Homo sapiens: one gene and its partner. The protein of the gene in region 1 interacts with the protein of each later gene in a biochemical or structural test. Each region holds a gene or a part of one and is shown in the gene's direction. Other genes may lie near its edges.

Evidence for each region. Proteins that work in one complex are often made in the same cells at the same time.
Region 2: the proteins of RPRD1A (region 1) and RPAP2 interact in a biophysical measurement, tested with the Homo sapiens proteins (one study listed by IntAct).

What each region holds. Positions count from the first base shown.
Region 1 is NC_000018.10:36,064,560-36,072,380, reverse strand, and holds the start of RPRD1A (regulation of nuclear pre-mRNA domain-containing protein 1A), read left to right. Parts: upstream 1-4,821; 5' UTR 4,822-4,976; coding exon 4,977-5,127; intron 5,128-7,821. UniProt on the Homo sapiens protein: Interacts with phosphorylated C-terminal heptapeptide repeat domain (CTD) of the largest RNA polymerase II subunit POLR2A, and participates in dephosphorylation of the CTD by RPAP2.
Region 2 is NC_000001.11:92,393,040-92,400,062, forward strand, and holds part of RPAP2 (putative RNA polymerase II subunit B1 CTD phosphatase RPAP2), read left to right. Parts: 3' UTR 1-7,023.

The sequences.
Region 1 (7,821 bases):
GGATTGCTGGTGTCAGCCACCATGTCTGGGCTTAAAAAAAATTCTTTTTTTGTAGAGATGGAGTCTCACTGTGTTGTATACGATGGTCTTGAACTCCTGACCTCAAGGGTTCATTCCTGCCTCAGCCTCCCACATTGTTGGGACTACAGGCATGAGCCACTGTGCCAGCTAGCATAATATTTTTGAGGTTAATCTGTCTTGTATCATGCATTATTATTTCATCTCTTTTTATGGCTGAATAATATATCACACTGGTTTTTTGTTTGTTTATTTGTTTGTTTGTTTGTTTGTTTTTTGAGATGGAGTCTCACTCTGTCACCCAGGCTGGAGTGCACTGGTGCAATCTCGGCTCACTGCAACCTCTGCCTCCTGGGTTCACGCCATTCTCCTGCCTCAGCCTCCTGAGTAGCTGGCATTACAGGTGCCCGCCATCACGCCCAGAGAATTTTTTGGTATTTTAAGTAGAGACAGGATTTCACCATGTTGTCCAGGCTGGTTTCGAACTCCTGACCTCAACAGATCCGCCCGCCTCGGCCTCCCAAAGTGCTAGGATTACGGGCATGAGCCACTGTGCCTAGACCACACTGTTTTGTGTGCTTTTTTTGTTTGTTTTTGTTTTTTTTTGAGACGGAGTCTCGCTCTGTCGCCCAGGCTGGAGTGCAGTGGCGCGATCTTGGCTCACTGCAACCTCTACCTCCCGGGTTCAAGTGATTTTCCTGCCTCAGTCTCCAGAGCAGCTGGGACTACAGGCACACGCCACCACACCCAGCTAATTTTTGTATTTTTAGTAAAGACGGTGTTTCACCATATTGGCCAGGCTGGTCTCGAATTCCTGACTTTGTGATCCACCCCCCCCCCCGCCCCCAGCCCCTTGGCCTCCCAAAGTGCTGGGATTACAGGCGTGAGCCACCACGCCTAGCCTGATATATGTTTTGATATAACTGTAGCTTTGAAGTAATTTTTGAAATAAGAAACTGTGAATCCTCCAACTTTGTTTTTCTTTTTCAAGATTGTTTTGATTATTCAGGGCTCCTTTCAATTCCATATGAATTTTAAGGTCAGGTTTTCCATTTCTGCATAAAAGGCCATTGGTATTTTAACATGAATTGCATTGAATTTGAAGATTGCTTGGGGGTATTATTGCCATCTTAAGAATATTAAATCCTCCAATCCATGAACACAGGATATCTTTCTATTTATTTAGGTATTTGATATATTTCACCAATATTTTGTAGTTTTCAGGATACAAGTCTTATACTTCCTTGCCTAAATTTATTCCATAGTATTTCAGCCTTTTTTGATGTTATTGTAAATAAGATTTTTTTCTTAATGTCATTTTCAAATTATTTATTATCAGTGTATATAAATACAACTCATTTTTGTGTGTTGATCTTATATCCCACAACTTTGCTGAATTTGTTTATCATCTCTAAATTTTGTGGGTGAATTCTTCAAGATCTATATCTAAGATCATATCTTCTGTGAATGGAGACCATTTTACCTCCTGCTTTCCAATTTAGAGACAAGATATAAAAACGAGTCATAAGTATCTAAAGGTATAAATAGTTACAGTCAATATTTTGAAAATATAGCTATAAGTAACAACGTCAATAAATGTAGATCTAACATCCTAGTGCCAAAAGCCATGGTACATTCATACATAGAATGTTCTGGGAGCCTGGAGCAGGGACAGCCAGATTAGACTGTGGACCAAGGAAGACAGAAGAGTTGGTGCTATGACTGAGTCACGGAGTGCTAAATCTAGCTGGAGAGAGAGAATACATATATTAAATTGTAAATAACATAGACTAGTAGTGTAAGTGCTAAATAAGGCATTCAGTAATTAAAAAACACAAGGAAGGAATCTAACATTGACTGAGTGGAAAGAAAAGAAAGCTGAAATTTAAGGCAGAATTTAAGCTGAAATTTTAGGTAGAATTGAGACACAGAGGAAGACAGAGATAGAGAATGAGAAGAGTGGAAATCTCAGGTGAAGACACTGGGAGATGGGAAGTAGTCTTTGGTGGAATGGAATGGAATATTGTTGAAGATACTTTTAAGGTCTCAGGGGATAGATAGGTTTGGACAGCCTCAGTAGCTCACGTTCTATAATCCCAGCACTTTGGGAGGCAGGGACAGGAGGATGGCTTGAGCCTGAGAATTCAAGACCAGCCTGGGCAACATGGCGAGACCCCATCTCTAAAAAAAAAAATTTAAAAATAAGCTGGGCATGATGGTACACCTGTAGTCCTAGCTACTTGGTAGGCTGAGGTGGGGGGAATCACCTGAGCCTGGGAGGTTGAGGCTGCGGTGAGCTGTGATGATGCCACTGCACTCCATCCTGGGCAACAGAGCGATATCTTGTCTCCTTTTAAAAAAAAAAAAGATAGGTTAAACTCGAACTAAGTTAAAGTTAAAAACTAGGCTAAATAGATTGGATAAACAAAAAGATGTATAATGGAGAAAGAAAGAAATGTAAAGATAGGAATAGATATTGGAGTGAAAAGAGGTGAAGGAAGAGTGAACTTCACCTCTACAACGATATCTCTGAACCTCAGGCACAGATATACATATTCTGTTCCTACTTGTTGGAAGTTCTTTCTCTTTTTCTTTTTTCTTTCTCTTTCTTTTCTTTTTTTTTTTTTTTTTGAGATGTAGTCTCACACTGTTGCCCAGGCTGGAAGTGCAATGGCGCGATCTTGGCTCACTGCAACGTCCGCCTTCCAGGTTCAAACAATTCTCCTGCCTCAGCCTCCCGAGTAGATGGGATTATAGGTGCCCACCACCATGCCCAGCTAATTTTTGTACTTTTTGTAGAGATGGGATTTCACCATGTTGGCCAGGCTGGTCTCGAACTCCTGACCTGGTGATCTACCCACCTCGGCCTCCCAAAGTGCTGGGATTACAGGCTTGAGCCACCGTGCCCTGCCCTTCCTTTTCATTTTTTGAGACAGGGTCTTGCTCTGTTGCTCAGGCTGGAGTGCAGTGGCACAATCATGACTCACGGCAACCTCTGCCTCTCAGGTTCAGGTGATCCTCCTACCTCAGCTTCCTGGGACCATAGGCGCATACCACCATGCCCAGCTAATTTTTAAATTTTTAGTAAAGACAGGGACTCACTATGTTACCCAGGTTGGTGTCTAACTCCTGGGCTCAAGCAATCCTCCCACCTCGGCCTCCCAGAGTGCTGGGATTATAGACATGAGCCACACATCTGGCCGCAAAGTTCTTGAACGATGCTTGTCAAAAGATAGTTTAGGAATTCCTATGGTTTCTTATGTATCTTTCTGGAAGTTTCTTGTATTAATATTTAGGGCCAGGCATGGTGGCTTACAACTGTATTCCCAGCACTTTGGGAGGCCGACACAGAGGAGGATTGCTTGAGCCCAGAGGTCGAGACTGCAGTGAACATGACTGAACCACATACTCCAGCCTGGGCAACAGAGTAAGACCCGGTCTCAAAAAAAATTTTAGAATATGATGGTGTATGCATTAGATTAACAATGAGATTTCTGTAATTAATTTTTAACTATATAAGTAATATATTCACGTATTCTTTTTGTAAAAATGAAAACAATATGGACACAATTTAAGGGCTCCAATTCTGATCCTCTCCCTGAGACCAGTATTCATGTGGTGTGTATTCCTCCAAACCTTTGCCATGAGTTTACGTACTTGTGAACCCATATGAACTACATACCTTTAAACAAGAAGTGGTATACTATACTTTTGCTTCTGTAATTAAAAAAAAATCCAGCTGGGCATGGTGGCTCACACCTGTAATCCCAGCATTTTGGGAGGCCAAGGTGGGAGGAATGCTTGAGCCCAGGAATTCGAGGTTGCAGTAAGCTGTGATCATGGCACTGAACTCCAGTCTGGGTGAGAGTGAGGCCCTCTCTCAAAAAGAACCTCATAAAAACCCACTCAAACCCTTCCAAATCCACCATATCTTGGATTAATCCATATTTTAAACTGCTGCATGTATTATGGAATATAGACGTATCTGTGTAGACTGCAACAGTGAATGTTCCAATTTTTCACTGTTACTGTGTTGGACTGAACACCTAGAATAAGCTTCCTGGTGCAAACATGCTGGTGTTTTTTCCAGCACTGACAGCAATTAGTGAAATTGCTAGGAAAGAGTATTCTTATAATTTTTAAATTTTTATTCATTTTTCATTTTTGTGGGTACATAGTAGGTGTATATATTTATGGAGTACATAAGATATTTTGGTACAGGCATGGCAATGCCTAATAATCGCATTATGCAAAGTTGGGTATCCATCCCTTTAAGCATTTATCCTTTGTGTTACAAACAATCCAATTATCCTTTTAGTTATTTTAAAATGTACAATTAAATTATTACTGACTCTAGTCCCCTGTCATGCTATCAAATACTAGGTCCTATTTATATTTAGTCCTTCTATTAGTCCTTCTATTTAGCCCTCCCCCACTACCCTTCCCAGCCTCTGGTCACCATCCTATACTCTATTTAGGAAGGTGTATTTTTAACCGTAATTGGTCATGCAAATAGTCTTTAAAGTGCCTGCCCCAATTTATACCAGTTTACATGCCTATGTAGAGATCTGTAATCACTGCTTCTTTGACAGAGTTTCCATTAAGGAGGGTTCAGGCCTGGCAAACTCCCACCATGCCTCTGAGAGTAACCCAGGCATCACGCCCCTGTCCGCCTCCCCTGCACTTGTTTCGACTCCGCCCCTTCCGCCTGGCGGTTCCACTTCTCGGCCGCGCGTTTTCCCAGGGCTTGCAGCGGGAGGGGCGGGGCGTGGGTCCCTGTGACGTCACTGCCGGCCGGACGCCATCTTGCTGGTTTGCGGCCGGTCTTGGATGAAGCGGCGGCCGTGGTGAGAGCGTGGGGAAGGGTGGGGTGAGGGGGCGAGGCCGCAGCTAGGGCGGCGAAACTCTCCTCCCCTCGGCCCCACCGCGTGGGACGGCGTGAACGTGGTGTCGGAGGGATGTCAGCCTTCTCTGAGGCGGCGCTGGAGAAGAAGCTGTCGGAGTTGAGCAACTCGCAGCAGAGCGTGCAGACCTTGTCCCTGTGGCTCATTCACCACCGTAAACACTCGCGTCCCATCGTCACCGTGTGGGAGCGGGAGCTGCGGAAAGGTGAGTCAACCGCTTATGTCGGCCGCTTCCCACCACCCGGCCGGCCTCCAGGCGCCCCCGGGAACCCCGTTTCTCCAGCGCCCCCGGCTTCCCGGCGTCGGGATGCCAGCGCGCGGTGGTCTGCGGGCTTGGAGGAGCTGCGTGCACCACGCTTCTGCAAAGTCTGGGCTTAGATATTTATTGAATAAAGGAATGAATAATTAAAAAAGAAAACTCCGGTTAGCTTAACACGGAAACAGTAGCAGGGGGTTGGGACTCCACACCCAATTAGGGCCAGAAATTCAGGTGGTCAGGTATTTTTTTCATTCTGTGAATGATAATGGAGGATAAGGGAGGGAGAAGGTAGGGGAGTGGAAAGAAAAAGATTGGTGTGGGTTTGGGAGTTACTTCCGTCATTTCTGTAACGCAGCAACTTATTCTTGTGAAATTAATAGAGGAATAGTTTTAGAAGTCTAATATAAGAAGATGGGTAATGCAGTGGAAAAGACTCTGAATTTGTAGATTTTAGAGGGTCTCAATTGGGCAAGTTTCTTATAACTTCTGCGTTGCAGATGCCTTACCTGAAAAGGAGAGATTTAGAGTAAGTCACCTAAAGTCCTTTCCTATTCTATGATTATATGCCCTAATGCAGTGTCTTTGTTTTGCAAAACATTTGATAGTGTTCCTGTAAATGAAGTAAACTTTTTTGAGATGTCTGTCACTAAAATATTCAGAATCAGTTCATGTATGCAGAGCAACTTTGTAAAAAATTATCCTAGTGCGACTGAAAATAAAAAATTTCATTTGCTTAGTCTGAGCTTGTACTTTAATTCTTAATTCATTGGGTAGAGTGGACACTCTTCATTATTGTTGCAAACATCCTGATGGATATGATGGTTTTTTATCAAGTGTTAAAGGTTTTAACCGTTATTAATCAAAATAGACGCTTGCTTACTGAACCTTGTGAAAGCTATATGATGTATGTACGTAACAGCCAAAATGTGAGCCAAAATGTTGGCTGTATATAATGGAGACAATCTGTCCTTGTATATTGTTTGTGGTTATGAAAACGTCACCCATCCTTGAGAAGAAATTGATTTACAGCCTTGTTTTTCAGTTTATGTGTAAGTATGTGTGTATTGGCCCTGAATGAGGAATTCATCTTCTGTGAGTGGACGGAAAGGTTTCAGAAACACTGATATAAAGGTCTGGAAAGTAGCTGTGAACTTTGAAAAGTCAGGAATTAGCTTTGCTTTTACATTTTACTAGATTTCAGAATCGGTAACAGGTTTATCTTGTTTTTTGTTTTTGCAGAGAGCATTTAGAAACACATGTAATCAGTATAGGGTTGATACCCAGACTCTCTTAATAACTATTACAAATCAGTAAAAAAAAAAAATGGCAGTACTGTTTATAGGCATTTCACGTGAGGAAACCTGAAAGGTCAATAAATGATACTTAATCTTACAAATCAGGAAAAAGTAAGCCAGTGAGGTACCACTTTATGTTCATCAATTTGGCAAAATAATATGACAATATGGATAATTGTTGCAGAGAAACAGGAACTCTTATACCACTTGGTGGGAATGTAAAAATATGTAACTATTTTGTAGATCAACTTAGTTGATGAAGTTGGAGGTATATATTAAATATATCCTTTGACCTAGCAGTTTTCTTTCTAGGAATATATTCTAGAAATAAGTATTGTTCTCAAGAATTGTTTATTGCAGCTTCATAATAACAAAATTGAAAACAAGTGAGACCCTGCCTGTGCAACATAGTGAAACCTTTTCTTTACAAAAAATAAGAAAACAAAAAAACCATTCCATTAGTTTGAGAATGGACAAATAAATTGTGATATTAATAAAATGTAATACTATCGAAAAGTTCTCACGAATGGACTAGAGCTGCATGAAACAACGTGACTGAATTGAAAAACAAACAAAATCTTGAGCTAAGAAAACAAGGTACAGACGAATAATGCTATGGGGGTAAAGTCTAAAAACATGCAAAACAGTACTTCTTTTGTTTATAGATACCTATATTAAAATATGCATAGTAGTGATTAACACCATATTCCAAGATAGTGGTTGTCATAGTGTGTCCAGAATTGGTGGGTTCTTGGTCTCGCTGACTTCAAGAATGAAGCTGTGGACCCTCGCGGTGTTATAGTTCTTAAAGATGGTGTGTCCGGAGTTTGTTCATTCTGATGTTCAGACATGTCTGGAGTTTCTTTCTTCTGATGGGTTTGTGGTCTCGCTGGCTTCAGGAGTGAAGCTGCAGACCTTCACTGTGAGTGTTACAGCTCTTAAAGGCAGTGCGTCTGGAGTTGTTCCTTCCATCCGGAGTTGTTGGTCCCTCTCGGTGGATTCGTGGTCTCGCTGGCTTCAGGAGTGAAGCTGCAGACCTTCGCGGTGAGTGTTACAGCTCATAAAGGCGGCAGGGACCCAAAGAGTGAGCAGCAGCAAGATTTATTGTGAAGAGTGAAAGAACAAATCTTCAACAGCAGGGAAGTGGACGCAAGCGGGTTGTTGCTGCTGGTTTGGGTGGCCTGCTTTTATTCTCTTATCTGGCCCCAGCCACGTCCTGCTGATTGGTCCATTTTACAGAGAGCTGATTGGTCCGTTTTGACAGAGTGCTGATTGGTGCGTTTTATGATCCTTTAGCGAGACACACAGCACTGATTGTTGCATTTACAAACTTTTAGCTAGACAC
Region 2 (7,023 bases), on another chromosome or scaffold:
AGAACAAAGCTGGAGGCATCACACTACCTGACTTCAAACTTTACTACAAGCCTACAGTAACCAAAACAGCATGGCACTGGTACAAAAACAGATATGCAGACGAATGGAACAGAATGGAGGCCTCAGAAATAACACCACACGTCTACCACCATCTGATCTTTGACAAACCTGACACACACAAGCAATGGGGAAAAGATTCCCTATTTAATAAATGGTGTTGGGAAAACGGGCTAGCCATATGCAGAAAACTGTAACTGGACCCTTTCCTTACACCTTATACAAAAATCAACTCAAGATGGAACAAAGACTTAAACGTAAGACCTAGGACCATAAAAATCCTAGAAGAAAACCTGGGCAATACCATTCAGGACATAGGCATGGGCAAAGACTTCATGTCTAAAACACCAAAAGCAATGGCAACAAAAGCCAAAATTGACAAATGGGTTCTAATTAAAGAGCTTCTGCACAGCAAAATAAACTATCATCAGAGTGAACAGGCAACCTACAGAATGGGAGAACATTTTTGCAATATATCCATCTGACAAAGGGCTAATATCCAGAATCTACAAAGAACTTAAACAAATTTACAAGAAAAAAGCAAACAACCCCATCAAAAAATGGGCAAAGGATATGAACAGATACTTCTCAAAAGAAGACATTTATGCAGCCAACAGACATATGAAAAAATGCTCATCATCACTAGTCATTAGAGAAATGAAAATCAAAACCACAGTGAGATACCATCTCATGCCAGTTAGAATGGCGATCATTAAAAATCAGGAAACAATAGATGCTGGAGAGGTTGTGGAAAAATTGGAACGCTTTTACACTGTTGGTGGGAGTGCAAATTAGTCCGACCATTGTGGAAGTCAGTGTGACGACTCCTCAAGGATCTAGAACTGGAAATACCATTTGACCCAGCAATCCCACTATTGGGCATATACCCAAAAGATTATAAATCATTCTACAATAAAGACACATGCACACGTATGTTTATTGCTGCACTATTCACAATAGCAAAGATTTGAAACCAACCCAAATGCCCGTCAATGATAGACTGGATTAAGAAAATGTGGCACATGTATACCATGGAATACTATGCAGCCATAAAAAAGGATGAGTTCATGTCCTTTGCAGGGACATGGATAAAGCCGGAAACCATCATTCTCAGCAAACTATCACAAGATCAGAAAACCAAACAACGCATGTTCTCACTCATAAGTGGGAGTTAAACAATGAGAACACATGGACACAGGGAGGGTAACATCACACACCAGGGCCTGTGGGGGGTGGGGGGCTAAGGGAGGGATAACATTAGGAGAAATACCTAATGTAGGTGACAGGTTGGTGGGTGCAGCAAACCACCATGGCATGTGTATACCTATGTAACAAAACTACATGTTCTGCACATGTAACCCAGAACTTAAAGTATAATAAAAAAAATAATTATTAAATTTTAAAAAACTAGCCAGGCATGGTGCTGCACACCTGTAGTCCCAGCTACTTGAGAGGCTACATTGGGAGGATTGCCTGAGCTTGGGAGGTTGAGGCTGCAGTTAGCTGTGACTGTGCCAGTGCACTCCAGCCTGGGCAACAGAGCAAGACCCTGTCTCAAAAAAAGAAAAAGAAAAATTCAGAGAGATTAAAGAAGGTATCAAGAAATGTAGACACAATCCATGTTCATGAATTGGAAGATCAAATGTTGTTAAGATAGCAGTTCTCCCCAAATTAATCTACAATGCAATCCCTATCAAAATCACAGCAGGCTTTTTTGAAAAATTGACAAGCCAATCTTAAAATCTGTATGAAAACATAAAGGATTCAGAATAGCCAAAATAATTCTGAAAATGAAGAAATAATTCTGATCCAGAACTTACTACAAAGCTACATTAATCAAGACAGTGTGGTACTGATATAAAGATAGGCATACAGATCAGTGGAACAGAGTCCAGGAATAAACCTTCACATTTATGATCAATTAAGTTTTGACAAAAATCCCAATGAAATTATGGAGAAAAGATGGTCTTTTCAACAAATAGTGCTAGGATATTTGGATATCAAATGCAGAAGAAATTAATTTAGATTCTTACCTCCTACCATATGCAAAAATAAACTCAAAATTGATCACACACCTACATGTAAGAGCTAAAACTATAAAACATGTAGAAGAAAACATGGGAGAAAACCTAGATGACCTTGGTTTAGGAAGAATTCTTAAGACACTAATAGCACAATTCATAAAAGAAAATATTAATAAATTGGACTTCATTAAAATATAAAATTTTGTTTCAAAAAACTATTAAGAAAATTAATTGGCCCGGGGAGGTGGTTCACATCTGAAATCCCTGCACTTTCGGAAGCCAAGGAGGGTGGACCACTTGAGCTCAGGAATTTGAGACCAGACTGGACAACAGAGCAAAATGCCATCTCCACAAAAAATACAAAAATTAACCAGGCATGGTGGCGTGCTCCTGTAGTCCTGGCTACTCAGAAGGCTGAGGTGGGAGGATCTCTTGACCCTGGGAGGCAGAGGTTGCAGTGAGCCAAGATCACACCACCGCACTAGAGCCTGGGTGACAGAGTGAGACCCTGTCTCAAAAAAAAAAAAAAAAAAAAAAATTAATTGAAAAATCACAGACTGGGAGAAAATATTTTCAAACCATAATAAGTATCTGATAGAGGACTTGTATCTAGACTATGTAAAGAATTCTTAAAACTCAAAAATAAGGCAGACAACTTAAAAATGGACAAAATGTTTGAATAGATATTTCAGCAAAGATATACAAATTGCTTAGCATATGAAGAGATGTGTACTATCACTAGTCATTAGGAAAATACAAGTTAAAAGCAAAATTAGATACCATTTTGGACCCACTAAAATGACTATAATAAAAAAGACAGACAAAGATATGTGTTGGTGATGATGTGGAGAAACTGGAGCCCTAATGCATTGCTGGTGGGAATGTAAAATGGTGCAGCCACTTTGGAAAACAGTTTGGCAGTTTCTTAAAAAGATAAACATAAGTTTACCATATGATCCTGCTATTCCATGAGAAGAGAAGTGGAAATGTGTTCACATCAAGACTCGTAGGCAAATGTTCATAGCATTATCATTCATATTAGTCAAAAAGTGGAAACCAAATGACCATCAACTACTGGATTTTTTTTTTTTTTTTAAGAGATGAGGCCTCACTATGTTGCATACTCTGAAGTCAAACTCCTGGGCTCAAACAATCCTCCTGCCTCAGCCTCCTCAGTAACTGGGACTGCAGGCAGGCACCAACATACCCAGATTATTTCTTTTTCTTTTTTTTTTTAACTGGTGGATTTCTTTAAATGATATATGTATACAATGGAGTAGTGATATAGGCTACAATATGGATGCATCTCAAAACATTATGCTTAGTGAAAGAAGTCTGATGCAATATCCCACATATGGTATGTTTCCATTTACAGTCCAGAAAAGGCATATACTAAATTAGCAGTTGCATGGGTCTGATGTGAAAACATGGATTGCCTGCAGATGGGCACAAGGGATCTTTTGGGGGTGACAAAAATGTTCCAAAACTAAGTTGTAATTTTTGCACAACTTTTATGTGTGTGTGTGTGTGTGTGTGTGAGATGGAGTTTCACTCTTGTTGCCCAGGCTGGAGTGCAATGGCGCGATCTCAGCTCACCACAACCTCCGCCTCCTGGGTTGAAGCATTTCTCCTGCCTCAGCTTCCTGAGTAGCTGGGATTACAGGCATGTGCCACCATGCCCGGCTAATTTTGTATTTTTAGTAGAGACAGGTTTTCTCCAGGTTGGTCAGGCTGGTCTCGAACTCCTGACCTCAGGTGATCCTCCTGCCTCGGCCTCCCAAAGCGCTGGGATTACAGGCGTGAGCCACCACACCCAGCCATTTTTGCACAACTTTATAAACTTTAAAAATAATTGATTTATGCACTTAAAACAGGTAAAGTTTATGTGTATAAATTATACCTTAATAAAGCTATTAAAAGTCAAAGATTATAACAGGGCCTCTCTCTCTCTGACCTAGTGACCTAGGGTAAAGAGAAAAAGAAGCTAGCCAGGCACAGGGGCTCACACCTGTAATCCCAGCACTTTGGGAAGCCAAGATGGGCTGATTGCTTGAGTCCAGGAGTTTGAGACCAACTTGGGCAACATAGCAAAACCCTGTCTCCACCAAAAATAAAAAAAATTAGCCAGGCATGGCGGTGTATGCCTGGAGTCCCAGCTACTCAGGAGTCAGAGGTGGGAGGATCACTTGAGCCCAGGAGGCAGAGGTTGTAGGGAGCCAAGATTGCACCACTGCACTCCAGCCTGGGTGACAGAGCAAGACACTGTCTCAAAAATTAAAAATTAAAAAATGAGGGAAGCTGCTGTATCTCCACTTCTTCCCTCTCTGTGCCCAGAGATATCTCTTCAGTTATCTCACATGCCCTACAAGTCTAGAGACCTCAGGTGAGGAGCCAGTAGCTCAGTATAGAAACTAAGGATCCAAGTGGACAACTGCCACCAAGTCACCACAGGGCCAGCTGCTTTGGGAGGGTGCTGCATCTGCCTCCCATACACTTCTGCCAAGTTTATGTTAGTTTGGGAGGACTGAAGCAGAATTCAGTTCAAAGTACTGTGCTGGATTTTGGTTTCTAAATATTTTCCAATAGAAAAGAACCCAGGCTTCTTGAGAAAATAGCTAGGTTCTAAGGCTAGAGCCAAAAAAATGCAAGATAAGCCTGGAGCATCTTGTAGTACCAGAAACTAAGCAAGTGCTCAAAAACAAAAGGATAGAAGCATGTCAGACAGACACAGGAGCCAATCTGAAAGAGCTCCCTGGCCGGGCACGGTGGCTCACGCCTGTAATCCCAGCACTTTGGGAGACTGAGGTGGGAGGATGACTTGAGCCCAGGAGTTTGAGACCAGCCTGGGCAACATAGGGAGACCCCATCTCTACAAAAAAGTAAACAATTAGCCGGGCATGGTGGCACACGCCTATAGTCCCAGCTACTCAGGAGGGTGAAGATCACCTGAGACCAGGCGGTCAAGGCTTCAGTGAGCCATGATTGTGGCACTGCACTCCAGCCTAGGCAATAGAGTGAGACTGTCTCAAAAAATAAAATTTTAAAATAACTGAAGAGTATAACTGGATTGTTTGTAACACAAAGGATAAGTGCTTAAGATGATGGAAACCCTATTTATCCTGATGTGATTATTACACATTGCATGCCTGTACCAAAATATTTCATGTAACCCATAAATATATACATCTACTATGTACCCACAAAAATTAAAAAATGTTTACAGGAGTGAACCACCGCACCTGGCCAGTGGAGTCTTTTTAAGGTATTATTTAGCATCTTCTGCTTATAGTCATGTCCAAAAACCAGTTGATCTTCCTACTCATTAGGGGACAAGATCAATTCTCTAAAAAATTAACCTAGCCCAAGGTAAGTGGTACTATTCTGAAATCTGAAAATCTTTAGTAGCCTCACATTATAAGCCCTTCGTAGAAAAAGAAAAGTAAGCATTTCTAGAAGCACATTTTTGTTGGACTGAGGGTGGGGCAAGGAGCAGGGGTGACTTTCATCTGAAATGTACCTAGGCAGGCCAGAGTCTGAGTTAGGACTGGCTCCTGGGACTTTGCCATCCAGGCCAAGAAGCATGCTCCAGTGTGCATGCACTCTCATCAAAGCCCTAGTCAGGAATCCCAGCCACTCCTCTCCTGTGCAGCACAAGCTGAAGGATAAGGTGTGGGGCAGTGACTGCGTGGGGCTGCCTGTGTGATTCCTGATAAAGAAATGCCTTCATGAAATGTATTGTTCCCCAATAAAGCTCATTTTCTGTGAGAATTCATGTGTCCTTTTCCAAATTAAACTAGCAAAATATGAACTTTTGTAAAAGGTCCACACCCAGCCAGTTTTCTACTCTCTAAATGTTCAGGCCTTTGCCTGTCCTTCCCTCAGCAAAAATACTGTGTTTTGGAAAACATTACCAATAAAGGAGCTGGGAGGTGGAATTGGATCAAAATACCTTTAGATGAAAGCAGCAGCACAAGCCATTCCCTTTAAATGAGCTGGCCTCACCTCTGGGGCCTATGAAGAAAAGCCTGCTTCAAGGTGATAGTTTTCATTTTGCTTCCCAGCACCTCTGCAGTCATAACCAAAGTGAAGGACAATATTGCATGACTTCAGAAGAAAGCCATCCAGCCACCTTGCAACATGTTCAGGAAATTCTGGACTCCCTTGGGGCTTGCAAAACTCCCTATGTCTTGCAGACCAAAAGCAAGTTCTCAGTCACCTAGCTCTAGTTTGCATAATTAAAGAAAGTGGAAGCTGGTTCTTTTCTGGGTGACCCTTCACCCAACCAAGCTCATAAGGACTTGTGACAAAAATAAGAGCAATAAAATGAAGTTTTAACAGTGAAAACTTCTATCACTTAGATAAGCAGGAAAAGCCAGTCCCCTAGATGCCCATCTGACCCTACCTTACTGGGGTCATACAGCCAAAGCAGTGTCCACTTCAGGTACTGTAATGTTTTGAAGTTGACACATATAATTTAATGTAGTTTCATGTCATAAGTTATAAGACTTTTCAGAGAAACAATTTAGTAATATCTTCTGTAATACCCATCTTCATTTTTTATATGAAAAAGCATAGCCTATGATCTGTCACCTTGCTCACTCCCACATCCTTACCTCTTATCCTTCTCACATCGTCCCATTAACACATTATCCATCTTTGGGGGGAAAAAATACACTAAATTTTAGACAGAGTCACTTTCACTATGGCCACAATGGGAGAAAAGACAGTCCACCTTCAAAGTCAACCAGAATGACTCTTAACCTCTCTTGTCTGGGTTGGGCATCCAGATAAGATTTTCTTCGTACAAAGAGTCTTGCTACTAGGAAAAAGAGTTTGAAAATCACTAGTCTAACTAAATATCTCACTTTAAAAAAAGCACAAACTAAGACTCAATGAGGTTTATCTTCCACAAGATCAGCCAGTTTTAGCAGAGCAGTTGCTA